Linked DNA regions of Homo sapiens. The protein of the gene in region 1 interacts with the protein of each later gene in a pairwise test. Each region holds a gene or a part of one and is shown in the gene's direction. Other genes may lie near its edges.

What was found.
Region 2: the proteins of AP1AR (region 1) and KLC1 interact in binary tests that used the Homo sapiens proteins (3 or more experiments, as listed by UniProt).

What each region holds. Positions count from the first base shown.
Region 1 is NC_000004.12:112,232,618-112,243,154, forward strand, and holds part of AP1AR (AP-1 complex-associated regulatory protein), read left to right. Parts: intron 1-10,537. UniProt on the Homo sapiens protein: Necessary for adaptor protein complex 1 (AP-1)-dependent transport between the trans-Golgi network and endosomes. Regulates the membrane association of AP1G1/gamma1-adaptin, one of the subunits of the AP-1 adaptor complex.
Region 2 is NC_000014.9:103,630,083-103,640,619, forward strand, and holds part of KLC1 (kinesin light chain 1), read left to right. Parts: intron 1-10,537. UniProt on the Homo sapiens protein: Kinesin is a microtubule-associated force-producing protein that may play a role in organelle transport. The light chain may function in coupling of cargo to the heavy chain or in the modulation of its ATPase activity.

The sequences.
Region 1 (10,537 bases):
TCAGATTGATTTTAAGTAGAAGTCATTTGGATGCTGGAGTAAAATAAGGTTCCAGATACTGATGAACTCTGGTAGCTACAAAGACTTGCTGAATTGCAGAGTTCCCAATGGGCATTCAGATTCTTGGTGCTCATAACTACAGGGACAATGTGTAATTTTTTCGTATTAAGTTTTTGAAATTTCGAGAGGAATTCCTTGCCCTGATTGCTACTCAAACGTCCTGTAACATTAGGTAAATTGCAGTCCTTCTGAACTTCACTTCTCTTGAGTAAACCTGGGATATTGCTTAGGTTTTGTATATGCACCATCCACAGAATAGTAATTTCATAATTCCGTTTTTGTGTTTTTTTATTTCATATATATTGAAAAAATTAGAGCAAATTCCTTTGGGGTTGGCTTTGTTGTTATTAAATGTCCCTCCGGAATTCAAACCTAGAATTGAAAATCTGAACCAAGCCAGTTTGTGTAAGGACTAAGACTGTTTTGCACTTTCTGAAACAGATTGCTAATTTTTCATAATCTGTTCCATTTAACTAACATTATTGGGTAATAAGATGTTCAACATAAATAAATTGCAGTAAATGATCATAATTTGAATCTTTGGTAATGGAGATCTTATAAAATATAGGATTCTCATTCATTAATTAGGCATTGTGTCACCTCTCTGATACAAAATAGCTAAGGTTTTACACTAAGTATCCCTAGAATGGAAGGGCAAGGATTTGCAGTTTGTGCCTAGTGTAATATTTCGATTTCCCTAATTTATGAGTTATTACTCTTGAGTGGGACATGACAGTTGTTTTATCTTGTCATCCAGGATCATCTGGTTTAAGTATTTATAATTTTTGTGTGTGAATGAAACTTACAAGGTCAAGCTGCTTAAGTAGGCTTGCCCAATAACTAGATGCCACACAATCTTTGGCTTTTACTATTATTTGTAGTTGTGTTACAGGGCGTTAAATTCTAACTCCAAGAAAGTTGGTTGGTGAGGGAGCAGTACTTACATTCTAAATGGATAAGCAAAAAACTTTATATTTGACTTTGGACTACATGATGTGTCTGTGGACTTTAGTTTTGTTTTTTTCATGGGGTCTCCGTAGAGTACGGCATTAAAATTGTAGGTTCTACTCCCTCAGCTCGTGAGCTTGGCAGCACAGGGAGGTGGCAGGAGGAAATCCATGAATCAGCGTGAGTGTTAATTGTCTGTAGATATGCCATAAAAACATAAGCAGGTGGAGTATTTCTTTCTTTTTTTTTGAGACGGAGTCTCGCTCTGTCGCCCAGGCTGGAGTGCAGTGGCGCGCGATCTCGGCTCACTGCAACCTTCGCCTCCCGGGTTCACGCCATTCTCCTGCCTCAGCCTCCTGAGTAGCTGGGACTGCAGGCGCCCGCCACCATGCCCGGCTAATTTTTTTGTATTTTTAGTAGAGACCGGGTTTCACCCTGTTAGCCAGAATGGTCTTGATCTCCTGACCTCATGATTCGCCAGCCTTGGCCTCCCAAAGTGCTGGGATTACAGGCATGAGCCACCGCGCCCGGCCAGCAGGTTGAGTATTTCTTATCTGAAATACTTGCTTTGGAGTTCAGATTTTTATTCAGATTTTGGAATATATGCATTATATACTGGTGTAGTATCTGAAAATCTGAAATCCAGAATTCTCCAATGAACATTTTCTTTGAGTAACATGTTGGCACTCAAAAAGTTTCAGATTTTGGAACATTTCAGATTTTGGGTTTTGGGGTTAGGTATACTCAACTTGTGGTTGGATTTTTACTGTTTGTGGGCAAAGCTCTTTGAACAAGTCCTGTGGAGGCAGTGAGAGTTTATAGGTTGTGGACACTGTCATCTAAAATTATATAATGGTGATATTGATCCTATTACTTTAAGTCTATAAACAGGATTTGACGGTTCCCTTACTTGAATTTTCTGATTAACTTATTGTTTAACATCAATTTTAATACTGTTTTAGCAGCTTCCAGTAAGCATGTAGAGACAGATGGATATAGTTACTTGTGCAATAAGGTTAAACTCTTATTTTAGTTTTTTTTTTTTTTTATCAGCTGTTTTGATTTTCTTTCAAGTATAGGTCTGGATAGTTAGTAGTTCTTCTAAAGGTGAAAAAGTTGAGGAGTAATCACAAAAACTTGATTTGATCCTATATGTCTTTGTAGTGACCACAAAAGAAGAGGGTGTCCTCAACTTTTTTAGCTTGATTTAAGCTAGACTTCACAGGGAAGCCTTATGATCTAAGGCCTGGTTTCTGAGTCTTGCAGATTGACATACCCCTGAGAAATCTGAAAATCAGATCACTCGTTTTTTACTATTTTAATCTCAAAACCAGAATTACCACTTTTTCCAGTTTATAAAATACTAGGGAATTCTAGTATTGTATATTCTAGGATATCTGTTTCACCAGTCAAAATATCAATATCAGTGTTGACGTATGTTGGAAACCCTACTACTAATGAAGTCATTTGGTGATTAAAGCAGAGAGAATTAAATATCTTTAAGGAATAAAACTTAGGCATCCTAATGAGTCATACTTCTTCACTGGAGTTTTGCCTGCCAACACTTTCTACAGGGCTCCATCTGCTGGTCAGTTCTCCTGTTTCTCTGAGCAGGCCTTTGTATAGACTTAGTTTTTTCTTTCTCAGATAGAAGACCCAATTAAGTTTTGTTGTGTTGTATTTAATTCCTATTTCTATATTACTGTATAATTCCACATAGTGATTCCACTTAAGATAAACTAGTTTTTATAGAAAGGTAAACCATATTTTGTATCCTCATCAATATGTAACATTTGTTGGCCTTTTTGGCTCCAGCAGCCAAGTTGCTTTCAGGCAATAGTTCACAGTGATTTGCTTTTCCATTCCTAGTAAAAATGATTTTAATAATAACTGACAACATTCCGTTACTTCCTATGTGCCAGGCACTGTTCTAAGTACTTTATATTATCTCACTTATTCCTCCCCGCAATCCTGTGAGGCAAGTAAGTATATATATTATATATATTATAGGTTGAAAACTGAAACTTAGAAAGTTGAACTTTCCCAAGATAGCAGAGCTGGGATTGCAACCCAGGTCCCTCTGAATTCAGAGTTCTTATCCTTAACCACCACAAATAGTTCATGGCACTTTATTCTATAGGTAAACATTTGGTTGCTATCTCTCTCATTGCAGTATCTTGAACGTTGTCACCAGAAGAACTTATGAATATACCTGAACAACTTGACTCTTTATTCTGTGTGCTAAGCTGTCTTTTTCTTGAAACTATGCGCTTGACTTCCACAATATCACCTTTATCTTATTTTCCTGTTTCTCTCCTAGCTATTCTTACTCTGTCTATTAAATGTGGAGATTTTCTTGTCTTCTCTTTTTTAATTTCCTTCATATGTGTATTACCTGCCCCTGAAGAAATTTTACCCATTCCTATGATTTCAACCACCACTACTTCCAAATCTCATCTTCTGCTTGTAGATCTTTTCAGTTGTCTACCTAAGAGGCACTCTTGGATATATTCAATTAAATCTCTATATATTATTTTCAGTCTCTCCTTAAACATACTGAACCTGTTTTCTTCCTGTCTTCTGCCATAAACATTGCCTTTCAAACTGCTTAGTCAGCAGCTTCCAGACTACTCTCTCTATTGTAGCTCTCATACTTCAGCCCACCCTCCCTTCCTATCATGAGTTAGGCTTTCTAAAACCCGCATTGGATTGTTTCTTTCCTTTGCTCAGCAACTTCCATCTGCTCCCTGATTCCCATAGCTAAATTTCTAAGTCTTTTTTTTTTTTTCCCCCAAAAAGGAGTCTCGCTCTCTTGCCCAGGCTGAAATGCACTGGCACAATCCTGGCTCACTACAACCTCCACCGCCTGAGTTCAAGTGATTGTCTTGCCTCAGCTCCGCAAGTAGCTGGGATTACAGGCACCCACCACCATGCCTGGCTAATTTTTGTATTTTTAATAGAGACAGGATTTCACCATGTTGGCCTGGCTAGTCTCGAATTCCTGACCTGAAACGATCTGCCCACCTCGGCTTCCCAAAGTGCTAGAATTACAGGCACGAGCCACTGCGCCCGGCCCTAAATTTAAAAGTCTTTTTTCCTTCTGTGACAGCATGATGAATTACATGGCATTCAAATGTATGGCATACTGTCCCTTTGTATACTCAGGATGATATTTAGTTCTATATTTGGGTTTCTATAATCTCTTTGTCAAAAAATGTCAGGATACAAATCAGTGAGAAAAACATTAAAAGAATAACATTAAAGCTATTCTAATTTCAAAAAACGTGTCATTCATAAATCTTAGCATTTTAACTTTTTGATAACTTACTATCCTCCCAACTACTAGTTTAAACTTTGGACAAAGCAATGTAACCTTAACCTGTTTTTACCAGTGTTATTCTCTCCCATCCTCTCTCTTACCACTTTTAATATCCTATATACCAGATGGACTGTGCTTGTTCTTGTTTTCCTAAAATACAGTGTTTTCTTTTTGTTTCCCCAAGACGGAATCTTGCCCTGTTGCCCAAGCTGGAGTGCAGTGGTGTGATCTTGCTCACTGCAACCTCCGCCTCCCAGGTTCAAGCAATTCTCCTGCCTCAGCATCCCGAGTAGCTGGGATTACAGGTGTGTGCCACCACACCTGGCTAATTTTTGTATTTTTTAGTAGAGACGGGGTTTCGCCATGTTGGCCAGGCTGGTCTCGAACTCCTGACCTCGTGATCCCCCCGTCTCGGCCTCCTAAAGTGATGGGATTACAGGCGTGAGCCACTGCGCCTGGCCAAATACAGTGTTTTCTAACCCTGTGCCTTTGTGGGTGATATTTATTTTCTTTTTTATTTTTATTTTTTTTGAGACGAGGTCTCACTCTGTCACCCAGGCTGGAGTGCAGTGGTGTGATCTAGGCTTATTAAAACCTCCACCTCCCAGGCTCAAGCAATTCTACCTCAGCCTCCCAAGTAGCTGGGACTACAGGCGCAGGCCACCACGCTTGGCTAATTTTTGTATTTTTTGTAGAGACACGCAGGGTTTCACCATGTTGCCCATGCTGGTCTCGAACTCCTGAACTCAAGTGATCTGCATACCTCAGCCTCCCAAAGTGTTGGAATTACAGTTGTGAGCCACTGCGCCTGGCCTCTGTGATATTCCTTCTTTTTTTAGTTTTTTTGTGAGCTTTCACTTACCTTTACCTTACCTTACTTACCTTCCCTATGAAACCCGCTCCAAGCCCCTGAAACCATATTATCTCCCTGAGGAAATAATATTTTCTACAGGCTTATTTTTGCTCTATATCAAGGGTTGGCAAACTTTTTCTGTAATGGGCCAGATAATATGTATTTTAGGGTTGGCAGGTGGTATGGTCTGTCACAACTACTGAACTTGCCTGTTTTAGTGCAAGAGCAGCCATAGACAGCATTTCAACAAATGAGTGTGGCTATATTTCAATGCAACTTTATTTACAAAAATAGGCAGAGGGCCAGATTTGGCCAGTGGGCCATAGTTGCCAACTCCTGGTACCATATGTACCATGATGTACGCTAAGAGCTCCTCAAGGAGGTCAAGGACTGTGTTTTATCACTCTCTCCATTCTCAGTATCTTACATTTGTTGAATGAACAGCCAGAAGAGTTATTTGAACTTGCAGGATCTACAAAACTACAATTTCTCCTATCCTTCATTTTTTTAAGGCCTAAAGATAATTCCCTAACTTTGGCAAAAACACCACATACCCAGATACTTAAACACATATCCTACCAGTTTTATATTGACTCACTATTTTTTTTAAAGAGATCATATTGAGTACCTTTGAGAATTTTAAAAATATTTATTATAATATATATTGCTAAAATATAGAAATCAATAGTGTCAGCATTAGAAGATTTATTTTGGTTCTGCATGTTTTTCAGTTTTGAAAAAATATAAAAGTGTAAGATGTTTCTCTTGGAATTTCAGAAGATAGGAAGGAAAACAGTAGTGCATTTAAATGGATATGGATTTTTTAAACATTCTTTGTTAAACCTTAAAGACTCCTAAGACTCTGTTCTGAATATCATTCCATTTTTCCCTAATACATTTTTAGTCTTTAATGTACTTTTCCTGGGTAATGGTACTTCACCTACTACTTATATGCTAATAAGTTCAGTCATCTCAGTCTGAGCTCTGAAATATCTAATTGCTACTGTGTAGTTCCACTTATCTGTCAAACATAACTGTAAATTAATTGTGTAAAGCTGAATTCATCTTTGTTTCCTTCTCATAGCCCTTTCCTCCTTTTTCCTCTTTAAGCCCCAGCCTTTTCTACTACTTCGTTCCCTACCTTGTGAGTGGTATCTGTAGTCACCTAAGCCATGAAACTAAGAACCATATCAAGTTCTTTCCTGTTACTCACCCTTTAAACCCAGGTTATCAAGTCCCTGCCTTCTGAGTGGCCCCTACATGTTAGATCTTTCTAACATCTATATCCTCTCTGCCTTAAAACAGACCCTTCTGTCCTCTATATTTGTAGTTCTACCCTCCTGATACGCCCTTTTGAACTTGTGTCTCCCTAATCTGAAAACCAAAAGGAAAGCAACATGAAACCTTATGTAGACTCCAACATCTCCCTCTAGCTGTTACCCTGACTACCATGTCTCCCTCCAGCTATTAACCCTATCTCCTATCTTTTCTCTTAAATATGTTTCTTAGGAATTGTCTCGTCTTGCCTAGTCTTGATGTCTTCTTGAGAAGTGTTTCCTCACTTCTCACTCAGTCTTCAAAGTAACCTAATGTTCACCTTTCCTGCTGCTGCTCTCCTCTGCATATTCATTTTCTTCTCAGTCATGACATTTTGGAGTCCTTCAAAACTTCTGTTAGACTCTTCTCACACTATACTCTCCTTAAAGAGTGACATGCATATAGCTGCTAACCTAGGGGTTGTCTTTGACACTGTTCCCCATCATCCCATGTTTCCAGTCCATCCTCAAGACCAGATGATGTCTTTTTTATCTCTTAAATAACTTTTCAGTCCACCCACTTCTCTCGCTGCTGCCACATTAATCCAGGCTGTCGTCATTTGTTGCCTAGATTTCCAATAATTCTGTGTGTATTCCTCGTTCACCATTCTCTGACACTACTTTGTTTTCCTTCATGGCGCTTACCACTCCATGACTTTGTAGACTCCGAGCATTTGTTTGTCTGTTGACTGTTCTCCCTTAATAGAGTATAAATTTCATGTGGTCAGAGACTTTGTTTGTTCCTGTATCTCCAGTGTACCAGCGGTGCTTGCCACATAGTAGGTGCTCAATAAATATTTGTCGACTGAGTGAATAGACTATCAAGTGGGTCTACCCACATATATTCCTGACCTTTTCCAATTTATCCTGCACCCTGGAATCGAAGTGATCTTAAATGCACATCTGATACTCTGGTTTCTCTTCAGAGTCAATAGATCTTTTGCCTTTTAAATGCAAATCTGTGACACAAATACAACATAAATTCTGAAGTGGCTTACCAAACTTGTAGGATAAAGACTGAAATCTTAATGGAGCTTTCAAGGCTCTGTGTTTATCTTTTCCTTGCCTACCTCTTCTTTCTCCTTTTATTTTTTTATTTTTGCTTCATGTGTGTCACACTTTTCCTTGAATCTATTTCTTTCCTTTTTACTTAGATGACTCCTATTCACTCATCTTGTAGATGCCAGCTTAAGAATTCTTTCCTACAGAAGTCTTCCAAAACCATCTCCTACCCTCCAGAGGGTAAGTCTGCACATCATCATGGAACCATCTGCTTTTCTTCTGTGCATGTTCTTAGTTTATAGTCATACTGATATAGTGTGATTATTTGGTTAATGCTTGTCTGCTGCTCTCAATAAAAAGGAAGGAGTTTATGCCTGTTTTTCCATACCACTGAATGAATACCCAGCTCTCAGTTAAGTGCCTAGTACATATTACATGTTCAGTAAATACTTGTTGGCAGAATTAATGAATACAGTATCTTGAATATGTCAGGTTCTTTTCACTCCCCCTTGCCTTTGGTACCTGCCGCTCCCTGAAACATCTCTTTTATCTGCTTGGAGGCCTGGCTCATTCCTCGGCCTCAGGCTGATTTTTGATGACACCTCATCTGAACATATCCCCTCTCACAGCATAGTAGTTGTTAATTTACCTGTGTGTCTACCCTGTTAGATTATAAGCCTTTTGGATACATGGGTTTAAAATATTTCAAATGTATAGCTATGCGTGTTACTGTATTACATAGCTATGCCTGGCTATGCCTGTCACTCAGTAACTTACAGAAATAAAAAATTGGAAGATTCAGTGGCATAGATACATAAGTGGCAACAGTTTCCAAAAGAAGAGGGTTGTCAGTGATTTCAGATGCTGCACACAAATTGCAGAGGACAAATAGCAAAGAACTAAAAGACCTCTAAGGTCCCTTCTCATTATTAGTTTCCTTTAAATCAGGCTCTTAAAAGGCAATAACTGTTTTTTAAACCCTTGCATTATGTCTTTGACATGTTTGGAGGGAAGAATTTGTCTCCTCTCTGCCAAGGCATAAAATTAAGTTTTTGAACATATTCTTCGTAAACGTGTCTTTATTAGGAAGAAGCTTATTAAACAGTAAATATGATTATTATTACTACCTGTATTAGTCAGGGTTCTCCAGAGAAATGGAACCAGTAGGAGATATCTGTATTTCTATGTTTACATGTAGGTAGATATATATAAACAGATATAAAATGAGAACTGTCATAAGGAATTGCCTCATATGATTATGGAGATTAAGTCCCACAATCTGTTATTTGCAAGCTGGAGACCCAGGAAAGCTGGTCGTGTAAGTCTCAGTTCATGGGCGGAAGACCAGTGTCTCAGCTCAAGCAGTCAAGTAGAGAGAATTCAATTCAACCTTCCTTCAGCTTTTTTGTTCTGGTCAGGCCCTGAATGGATTAAATGATGGCAACCCACCCACCTTGGAAAGGGCAATTTGCTTTACTCAGTCCACCAATTCAAATGCGAGTCTGTTCTCTAACACCCTTGCAGATGCACCAGATATAATGTTTAGCCAGATATCTGGGCATCTGGTGACCCACTCATGTTAACGTATAAAATTAACCGTCACATCACCTTATGTCACTGCTATCCCTACCTGGAAAAATGTGTTGATTTTATCCCTTAAGATTTGAGTGGTTAAATCTCTATTGAAATATTTGATACTAATTGGAAAACAATGTTTCCATCATCTTTGTAATACTTTTTGCCAGGCATTAGATTTATAATCTTTCCAGTCTTCTGAAAAAAAAAATAGCATTCTTGGGAAGCTTTTAATTTTTAATAGACTTTGGAACAATTTACCATGATTCTTCATCATTTATTTATAGTGTCAAGCAAAACATACAGGGAAAGACTTTCTTATTTTATTCTGACAGATATAAAGAGGAATATGAAGAAAAGGTACAATATCAATGTAGAATTTGTGATAATTTTTCAGTTACCTTTTACTTAAGTCACTTTGATATGAGTATTTGCCTGCTATGCAAAACAAAGTGAGAAGCATAAAATACTGCATTTTAAGCCTATTCTTAACAAGACTGGTTTTATCTTTAATAAAAGTATCTTGAAATCTACCTTGAGAACATCGATAAGTGAATATGTATGCAAGTATCTCCACTTTTGTACCACGTTAGTTTCAAATTCTTCCAAATTTCTGTATATGCCTCCATCGTTCAGAGTATTATTCTCCAGGAACCAGTCATAGCCTTTCTTTTCTACCCCTCTGATGTCCTTTATGTGTTTGAATCTGTCTTAGGCTGTGTCGACATAAAGGAATATCTGAGACTGGGTAATTTATAAAAGAAAAAAAAAGCTTACTTGGCTCACAATTTTGATGTCTGGAAAAGTTCAAGATTGGGCATCTGCATCTGGTAAGGTGCAGACTGCTTCCACTAGTGGCAAAAGGTGAAGGGAAGCCACTGTGTGCAGAAATCACACGGCAAAAGAGGAAGCAAGGAGGGAGTGCCAGGCTCTTTTTAACAACCTGCTTTCATGGGAACTCACTCATAACCATGAGGATGAGGTTGGTACCAAGCCATTCATGAGGGATCCACCACTGTTACCTAAACACTTCCTATTAGGCCCCACCCCTAACAATGGAGATCAAATTTCAACATGAGATTGTTAGGGGACAAACATCCAAGCTATAACACAATCCACTTTCACATCTTCAGTAGTAGTAGAGTGGATACGCAGAAGCCTACTTTACTTCATTTAGAGACAGCTCACAGGACCATAAGAATTACATGTAAATGAATGTCCATGGATGACTTGGAGGAACTCTAGACTGTTAAGAGGAAAAAGTACACTTCTATTTTCTTTAAATCATTGTTTTTGGAGCCTCTTTCAGCTCCTCAACTTTCACCCTAATTAACACACCTGAATATACATGTTCTTGAATAGAATAGTGGGTTGCTGCCCAAATTACTTATCGCCTTCCTTTTTCCTCCAGGGCATGTGACTGGATTCATGAACGTTAAATGCACATATTATGTGCCCGTAATC
Region 2 (10,537 bases), on another chromosome or scaffold:
GCCTCCTTGGCGACCCCTTATTTTCAGTAACCAGATGCGAAACGTTTCAGGCGACCCTGTTCACCTAGGCTGGCGTTGCTCCAACTAAACTTGAAGCAGCCTCCGTCCTGGAATGCTTTTTCCATGTAAAATTGGGTGTACCCTTTTCCTTAAGAAAATTAAAATAAAGCGTAAAAGTAGTGAAATTAATGCGTGATGGAGTGGATGGTTTTATAACTTAACATTTGTAGGTCATTTCTAGGTATATTTGTATTAGAATTGTTGCTGCCTGTTACTGTTTTATTATTTAAATGAATTAAGAATTTACATATTAAGCGTTTGAAAAGGAATACTTACAAAAATGATGTTTTTTAAAAATGTGAGAACAAAAAATTTGAGATATACTATTTCAGGTGTTCTGTAAAAGGGCAGTTAGAGCTTTGATTCTTTGCATTAGTTAAATCCCAAGGCCTTTTTTTTTGGTACGGCATGACTAAGCCATTGATCAGAATCAGCTCGGAATACATTGCACTAGTTTAGTGAAAGACACTTTAGAAAACTGGAAGAACCTCCTGAAGTTATATTACAGACATGGCCTTGCTTCTTTCAGGGATTGTCAGCAAGCCTGTTATGGTGAGAAATTTGACCTATTGCTCTGTTTCCTAAATATTTGTAGGAATACAATGATACTAAGTATGAAGTATATTTCAACTTGTATGGAATTCTGTGTGGGAGGGTAGGCACTCTAAAGAGCCAGTGTCTCTCCAAGTCATCAAAGAATGCAGCATCATGTTGCAGTTGAGCCTGGCAGCCCTGTCTGGCACTGAGTGCTGTGGAGGACCCAGGTGGTAACCTCTAACCCTACTGCAGCCTTGGCATTGTCTTAGAGAAAAGCATCCAGACATGCACAGGACTCTGGACAGCGTTTATCTCCAGCAAGGGGGGAGGGAATGACACTGGGGAGAGGCACACAGTATCTTCAGTATTTCATAGCAAATAACTGCAGTCGTTTAAACTTACACATTTTTTTTTTTTTTGAGATGGAGTCTCGCTCTGTCGCCCGGGCTGGAGTGTAGTGGCGCGATCTCGGCTCACTGCAAGCTCCGCCTCCCGGGTTCACGCCATTCTCCTGCCTCAACCTACTGAGTAGCTGGGACCACAGGCGCCCGCCACCACGCCCGGTTAATTTTTTGTATTTTTAGTAGAGATGGGGTTTCAACATGTTAGCCAGGTTGGTCTTGATCTCCTGACCTCGTGATCCGCCCACCTCGGCCTCCCAAAGTGCTGGGATTACAGGCGTGAGCCACCGCACCTGGCCCAAATTTATACATTTTTAAAATTTATACATTCTTAGGCATGTTTCTCAATGTTGGAAAAAAGTCAATGTGTAACTTTCTGTATAGGGCCATAAATTATCTTAAAACATACTTGTATAAAAAGAAACCTAGGATAGAAAAATCAAAAGTTGAGTGAAATGTATGATTAGTATCACCTGAAAACATTCTTTGTAGATAAGTGGAATGTTAGAAACCAGTATTTTATTTTTATTTATTTAGAGATGAGTCTCACTGTGTGGCTCAGGCTAGAGTGCAGTGGTGTGATCCCCGCTCACTGCAACCTCCGCCTCCCAGGTTCCAGTGATTCTCCTGCCTCAGCCTCCCTAGTAGCTGGGATTACAGGTGCCCACTACCACACCAGGCTGATTTTTTGTATTTTTAGTAGAGACGGGGCTTCACCATGTTGGCCAGGCTGGTCTCAAACTGCTGACCTCAGGCGATCCACCCGCCTCAGCCTCCCAAAGTGCTAGGGTTACAGGTGTGAGCCATTGCACCTGGGCTGAAACCAGTATTTTATGTAGCAAAGAAATGATCAGTAATATACTCAAGACGAGAGTATTTGGGAAGATTTAAGTGTCAAATTTCAGGGCATAGAATAAAAGTGACAAGCACATTAAGATTGCAAATACTGGTCTTAAATGTCTGTTGGGAACCAACTGAATGGCAGGTACTGTGCTGAGTAGTCAGCGATACCTTGATAAAAGAGCCACTGTTGGCCGGGCGTGGTCATGCCTGTAATCTTAACTCTTTGGGAGGCTGAGGCTGCAGATCGCCCCTAGCTCTTTGGGAGGCCGAGGCAGGTGGATCACCTGAGGTCAGGAGTTTAAGACCAGCCTGGCCAACATGGTGAAACCCCGTCCCTACCAAAAATACAAAAATTAGCCAGGTGTGGTGGTGCACACCTGTAATTCCAGCTACTCATGAGGCTGAGGAAGGAGAATCGCTTGAACCGGGAAGTGGAGGTTGTAGTGAGCCGAGATCACGTCACTGCAGTCCAGCCAGACTCCGTCTCAAAACAAACAAAAAGAGCCGCTGTCAGCCGTGCAGTGGCTCACTCCTGTAATCCCAGCACTTTGGGAGGCCAAGATGGACCGATCACCTGAGGTCAGGAGTTTGAGACCCGCCTGGACAACATGGTGAAACCCTGTCTCTACTAAAAATACAAAAAAAACCAAAACCGGGTGTGGTGGCGGGTGCCTCTAATCGCAGCTACTCAGAAGGCTGAGGCTGGAGAATCGCTTGAACTGGGGAGGCAGAGGTTGCAGTGAGCCGAGATCACGCCATTGCACTCCAGCCTGGGCAACAAGAGCAAAACTCTGCCTCAAAAAAAATAAAACCAAAAAACAAAAAAACTCTGTCCTCTAGGAGCTCACAGGCTGGCATGGGCAGGTACCACAGACCAGGTTAAAGGCTGTGGAGTGCACTGAGGAGGCGATTCTTCACAAAAGAAAAGTACCAATCAGCCAGTGTCAGGGGGTCAGGGGTGGGATTGGGATTGGGGTTCCTGCTTGGAGGAAATAAATCCTGAGGTTGTGCTGCTGTAAAGGGGCATGTTGGGAAGGGGACATGGGAGTGAGTGTGGAAAGACGAGGTTAGGAAAGGCCTTGAATGACTTCTTAGAAGTCTGCTTTCATTCTGAGGTTTACAAAGGAGGGTTGGAAGATTTTTTTTTTTTTTGAGATGGAGTCTTGCTCTGTCACCCAGGCTGGAACGCAGTGGCACGACCTCTGCTCACTGCAGCCTCTACCTCCCAGGTTCAAGTGATTCTCCTGCCTCAGCCTCCCGAGTAGCTGGGACTACAGGTGCGTGCCACCACATCCGGCTAATTTTTTGTATTTTTAGTAGAGTCGGGGTTTCACCACGTTAGCCAGGATGGTCTCCATCTCCTGACCTCGTGATCCGCCCGCCTTGGCCTCTCAAAGTGCTGGGATTACAGGCGTGAGCCACCGCGCCTGGCCGGAGGGTTGGAAGATTCTGAGGAGCCAGTTGCCACTTTAGAAAGAGCATAGGCAGTGGTGGGGCAGGTGCTGTGAACTGGGATGAGGTTAATTAGGAAGCCATTAACCCCAACTCGGCAAGCCTCAGGATTAGGGCAGTGACAGAAGGAACAGAGAAGCTAGGTGGGGGCAGGGGCTGGGCTGTAAGGGTTATAGTGGAGCTGATTTGGGGCTGACTGGATTGGGGTAAATGAGGAGCTGCAGGGAGGACTCCCCAGAATGATCCTGTGAAAACCTGAGTCACTCCTCTGTTAAAGCTTTTGTCAGTGTCCTCTGAGCACCCCACCCTGTCTCTTTTCATCTTCCTGCTCTGGCCCTACTCAAGCACTTCCAGGTGCATCTGGAGTTCTGAACCAAACCCATTCTTGTAGTGATTAGCATTTCTTCACTTCCCCACATACTCCTTAGCCTCTGCCCTGATTTTTCTCCTTAGCACACCTCACTATCTTAAATGCTGTATTATTATTATTTTTTTTTTATTATTACTTTTTGAGACGGAGTCTCGCTCTGTCACCCAGGATGGAGTGCAGTGGCATGATCTCAGCTCACTGCATCCTCTGCCTCCCGGGTTCAAGCCATTCTCCTGCCTCAGCCTCCCAAGTAGTTGGGACTACAGGCATGTGCCACCACACCTAGCTAATTTTTGTATTTTTAGTAGAGACAGGATTTCACCATGTTGGCCAGGCTGGTCTCGAACTCTTGACCTTAAGTGATCCACCTGCCTCAGCCTCCCAAAGTGCTGGGATTACAGGCCTGAGCCACCGTGCCTGGCCAATACTGTATTATTTTAATCATTTTAAAATTTTTATTGTTTGTCTCCACTTAACATTCATAACCTCCACAAGGATGGGGAGTTTTGTCTCTTGTATTCAGTGTCGGTGCTTGGCGTGTAATAGGAACTTAGTAAATGTTTGTTGAAGGAATGCATCTAGAATGATCCTCATCTCTAATTTGGGTGATTCACTGGCTGGTGACACTCATCCAAGGAGGGAAAATGGGAGAAGGATGAGATTATGAGTTTGTTTTTGGACATGTTAAATCTGAAGTGCTTGTGGGGCAGCCAAGTGGACTAGTGGGCAGTTAGAGATACATCTTTGGAGCTCAAGACAGAGGCTGAGGCTGGAGGTAAAGATTCCAGAGACTGCATCATATCGTTGAGCCAGTCGGGTGTGATGTCCATCTGGTAGAGATGGGGAGTGGGTCTAAGAGGAGAGGGTCCTGGGAAACCAAGAGAAGAGGAGGGAGGAGATCAGTAGCAAATTGGCTAAGAAGTCAGTGATGGGTTGGACTGAGAAGTCTCTATGGATTTTGCTTCTAGGAGGTTACTAATGACCTTTAACTTTTTTTTTTTTAAATATAGTTTATGTAGAGACGGGGGTCTCACTGTGTTTCCCAGGCTGGTCTCGAATTCCTGGGCTCAAGCCATCTGCCTGCCGTGGCCTCCCAAAGTGTCGGGATTACAGGTTTGAGCCACTGCACCCGGCCTGTTGCCTGTTTCCTGAGAATATTACCTCTTAAGGATGGAGGCTATTTCGAGATGATCTTCATTCGTTCTCCCAAGGCATCCTTTGTGGCGTTGTACTCTGTAGCCTCCTAGTTAGTATACTCATGGATCAGAAATGAATTATGATTTTTTTTTAGTTTTAACTAATTTTTGGAGGCAGATGAAAGCAGTTTGCATATATGCTTTTTGAATTTGAAAAGTGCTATCTGAACTTAAAGCAACGGATATGGAGCAAACATGTTAAGCTGAGTTACGTGCATACGTGAACTGAGTTACTTCCTTGGTTCTAAAATATCTGTTACCTTCATTTAAACCATAGATTGTTCCCTGACTTCAGTTGCATAACATAAATTTATGTTCAGGCTTCTCTGAAGTTCACTATGCTGCTACTAAAACTGATCAGAGTGATGTTTGCACTGTTCCAGAGAAAATAGGTACTGTAAACCCTGCGGATGTCATATGTGTCTGTAGTTTCAGTTACTCCGAAGGCTGAGGTGGGAGAATCAGTTGAGCCCAGGAGTTCAAACTAGCTTGGGCAATATAGTGAGACCTTGTTTCTTAAAAAAATAAAAGGCTGTGCTTGGTGGCTAATGTCTGTAATCCCAGCACTTTGGGAGGCTGAGGAGGGCGGATCACCTGAGGTCAGGAGTTTGAGACCAGCCTGGCCAACATGGGTGAAACCTTGTCTCTACTAAAAATATAAAATTAGCCGCGTGTGGTAGTATGCTTCTGTAGTCCCGGGTATTTGGGAAGCTGAGGTAGGAGAATCACTTGAACCCGGGAGGCGGAGGTTGCAGTGAGCCAGATCGAGCCACGGCACTCCAGCCTGGGCGACAGAGTGAGACTCCCATCTCAAAAAGAAAAAAAAAAAGTAAAATAGGTACTGTTACTGAGATTCTACTGTTGAGGAATTTGAGGGTGAGAGAGGGGAAGTTTCAGAAACCAAAGTTACACAGCTGTGAAGTCAAGATTCTAACTCAGTTTTTTTGCTTCGCGGTATAAGCTTTGAATCACCTTGCAGTACTTAAAGCTGCAGCTTCAAGTGAATCATGATAATGCTGTTTAATCCTATCATTACTTTTTCTTGGGGAAACCTCGCGCCACTTCAATTTTTTTCAAAGATGTACCATTTTAACCATTTAAAAGTTCACAATTCAGTAGTGTTAAGGATATGCACATCGTTGTTCCACATTTCTGGAACTCTTTCATCTGGCAGCGCTGAGACTGTAGCCCCCAAATACTGATATCTCCTCCTCCCTCGCCCTCCCCCGGTAACCATCTTTTCTACTTTGTTTCTATGATTTTGACTACTTTCAATACTTTATTTTTTATTTTTTTTGAGATGGAGTTTCACTCTTGTTGCCCAGGCTGGAGTGCAGTGGCACGATCTCAGCTCACTGCAACCTCTGCCTCCCGAGTTCAAACAATTCTCCTGCTTTAATTTCCTGAGTATCTGGGATTACAGTCATGGGCCACCATGCCGGGCTAATTTTGTATTTTTAGTAGAGATGGGTTTCTCCATGTTGGTCAGGCTGGTCTTGAACTCCTGACCTCAGGTGATCACCCCCCATCGGCCTCCCAAAGTGTTGGGATTACAGGCGTGAGCCACCGTGCCTGGCCTTGCCTGTCTTTTTCATCTGAGCCATTCTAGCGGGGTATAGTGGCATCTTGTTAGTTTTAATGTGCATTTCACTGATGACTCATAATGGTGAGCGCTTACATGCTTGTCGGTCTTTGTATGCCTGGATTTGTAAAGTGTCTGTTCAAGACTTTTGCCCATTTAAAAAATTGGATTGTTTGTATTTTTAAGTTCCTTACATATTTATTTATTTATTTATTTTTGAGATGGAGTCTCCTCTGTTGCCCAGGCTTGAGTGCAGTGGCGCGATCTCGGCTCACTGCAAGCTCTGCCTCCCGGGTTCACGCCATTCCCCTGCCTCAGCCTCTGGAGTAGCTGGGACTACAGGCGCCTGCCACCACGCCCAGCTAATTTTTTTTTTTGTTGTATTTTTATTAGATATGGGTTTCACCATGTTAGCCAGGATGGTCTCGATCTCCTGACCTCGTGATCCGCCCGTCTTGGCCTCCCAAAGTGCTGGTATTAACAGGCGTGAGCCACCACGCCCAGCAGTTCCTTACATGTTTTTTTTTTTTCAGATGGAGTCTTGCTCTTGCTCTATTGCCCAGGCTGACGTATTTTTTATACAAGCCGTTTGCCAGATATATATGTGTCGCAAATATTTTTTCCTAATCTATGGCTTAACTTTATTTTTTGGTAGTGCCTTTTAATAAATCAATACTTTTAATTTTTCTTAACCATGCTCTGGCAAGTTTTATTAAAGAAATTTTCGGCTGGGCGCGGTGGCTCACACCTATAATCCCAGCACTTTCGGAGGCCGAGGCGGGTGGATCATGAAGTCAGGAGTTTGAGACTACCCTGGCCAGTATGGTGAAACCCCGTCTCTACTAAAATTACAAAAATTCGCCAGGCGTGGTGGTGTGCACCTGTAGTCCCAGCTACTTGGGAGGCTGAGGCAGAAGAATCGCTTGATCCCGGGAGGCAGAGGTTGCAGTGAGTCGAGATTGCGACACTGCATTCCAGCCTGGGCAACAGAGTGAGACTCTGTTTCAAAAAAAAAAAAGAAATTTTCGCAGGGTTTATTTTTATCTTTTATTTTTTGTTGTTGCCTAAGCAACATCCGCTTTCCTTAATTCTGAAAGCATATCTATAAATAAGTCACCCAAAGGCCAAATAGATGCATTTGTTTTGTCTGGTTGTTAATGTTTTCTTTTTAAAAAAATATTTATGTATTTATTTAATTTTTGAGACAGGATCTTGCTCTGTTGCCTAGGTTGGAGTGCAGTGTCACAGTCGTGGCTCAGTGCAGCCTCGTGTTCAAGTGATCGTCCCACCTCAGCCCCTGAAGTAGCTGGGACTACATGTGCGCACCACCATGACCGGCTTGTTTTTTGTAGAGACAGGGTTTCATGGCATTGCCCTGGCTAGTCTTTAACTTCTGGGCTCAAATGATCTGCTCTCCTTGGCCTCCCAAAGTGCTGGGATTACAGACGTAAGCCACTATGCTGGGCCACCAAGATACTATTTATTTCCCTGAATATGACGTGGACTGTTCCTGTAGGCTGGTCCCTTCACCTCAGGACCCTCTTTGCTGGTATTGTTTGGGGCTTCTGCGCCTGTATATGGGGATGGGACCTGACCCTGCTGATCTGGCCAGCACTGCCAGGGTTTCCTGTTGCCCATCTCTCGGTAAAACATCCCTTATAAACCTTTGCAAGGAAAAAACCTCTGTTTTCTTCCCTCCATCCCATTTTTCCTTAATGTGCTACCCTCGTCTGTATTCATAGGAACTTTATTTAACACTTGAGAACTGAGAGTAATTGACATTTCTTTCTTGGCTGTCCTTCATTCTGTGCACCCAGACCTATTGCTTTTTCTACCACATTCTTTTTCTCTTTTAGAAAATTGAAATGTAAGTCACATCACATCAAATGCCCCATTTTAAAGCGTGCAGTGCAGTGATTTTTAATGTATTCTCTGTTTTGTGCAACTACCATCTATCTAATTCCACACATTCCTTTTCCCTTTTTAGTGCTTGGTGTTTTTTTTTTTTCTTAACTTTCTTCATCACTGTAAGCTTTCCCCACCTGGCTGAATTTCACATGATAAAACCAGGGGAGGTAAAGTGACCAAAGATGATGCCCTTTGCTTCTCTGGCCTTTGCTTTCATTTCATTAATTTTTTTTTTTTTTTTTTTTTTTGAGTCAGAGTCTCGCTCTGTCACCCAGGCTGGAGTCTGGGTGTATATGTATGAACACAGTGGGGTGTGTGGGTGTGTGTGAACATAGTGGTGTGTATGTATGAACACAGTGGGGGTGTGTGTGCGTGAGCACAGTGGTGTGTGTATGTATGAACATAGGGGTGTGTGTGAGCACAGTGGTGCATATGTATGAACATAGGGTGTATGTGTGTGAGCACAAGGGTGTGTGTGTGTGTGTGCGTGCATGCAGAGTGGTAGGGTTCCTGAAGCAGAGGGACACTTGGGGCAAAGAGACCTTGGATTGTGTTCTTCTTGTTGGTAGAATAAGCTTAAATCACTTCATGTATCCCAGTTTCCTCAGCTGTAAATGGGAATTATAATGATAGGTCATCAAACTACCTGCAGACTTTTTTTGTTGTTATTTCGATAAAATATTACACATTTGAAAATGCTCCCAAAACTAACATATTGGACAGATGCGAATTCTTCTTTCCTTTTTTTTGAGATGGAGTCTTGCTCTGTTGTCCAGGCTGGAGTACAGTGGCATGATCTTGGCTCATTGCAGCCTCAGCCTCCCAAGTAGCTGGAACTACAGGCATGTGCCACCACGCCTAGCTAATTTTTATATTTTTAGTAGAGATGGGGTTTCACCATGTTGGCCAGGCTGGTCTTGAACTCCTGACCTCAAGTGATCCGCCTGCCTCAGCCTCCCAAAGTGTTGGGATTACAGGTGTGAGCCACCACGCCTGGCTCTTTCTTGTCTTTTACTTATTTATTTTTTTGTGACAGGGTTTCGCTGTGTCACCTAGGCTGGAGTATAGTGGTACAGCCAAAGCTTACTGTAGCCTTGAGCTCCCAGGCTCAAACAATCCTCCCACCTTAGCCTCCTGAGTAGCTGGGACCACAGGCGTGTGCCACCACACCCAACTAATTTTTATTTTTGTAGAGACAGGGTCTCACTGTATTCCCCAGGCTGGTCTTGAACTCCTGGGCTCAAGCAGTGCTCCTGTCTTGGCCTCCCAAAGTGCTGGGATTACTGGTATGAGCCACCACACCCGGCCCAGATGTGAATTCTTTATTTTTATTTTATTATTTTTGAGACAGGGTCTCAACTCTGTCACCCAGGCTAGAGCACAATGGTGCAATCATGTTTCACTGCAGCCTTGATTTCCTGGACTCCAGTGATACACCTCAGCCTCCTGAGTAGCTGGGACCACAGGTGCATGTCACCACACCCAGCTAATTTTGGTATTTTTTTTTAGGATGGGGTTTTGCCATGTTTCCCTGTCTGGCTTTGAAATCCTGAGCTCAAGAGATCCACCCGCCTTGGCCTCCCAAAGTGCTGGGATTACAGGCGTGAGCCACTGAGTCAGGCTGTGAATTCTTTCTTTTATTTTCTTTATTTTTGAGACAGAGTTTCGCTCTGTTGTGGAGTGCAGTGGCACGATCTTGGCTCACTGCAAACTCCACTTTCCAGGTTCATGCGATTCTACTGCCTCACCCTCCCGAGTAGCTGGGATTACAGGTGTGCACCACTATGCCTGGCTAATTTTGTATTTTTAATAGAGACAGGGTTTCACCATGTTGACCAGGCTGGTCTCGATCTCCTGACTTCAGGTGATCGACCCACCTTGGCCTCCCAAAATTCTGGGATTACAGGCATGAGCCACTGCCCCTGGCCTGTGAATTCTTTTTTTTTTGAGACAGAGTCTCGCGCTGTCGCCCAGGCTGGAGTGCAGTGGCGCGATCTCTGCTCACTGCAAGCGTCACCTCCCGGGTTCACGCCATTCTCCTGCCTCAGCCTCCTGAGTAGCTGGGACCACAGGCGCCCGCCACCACGCCTGGCTAATTTTTTGTATTTTTGGTAGAGATGGGGTTTCACCGTGTTAACCAGGATGGTCTCGATCTCCTGACCTTGTGATCTGCCCGCCTCGGCCTCCC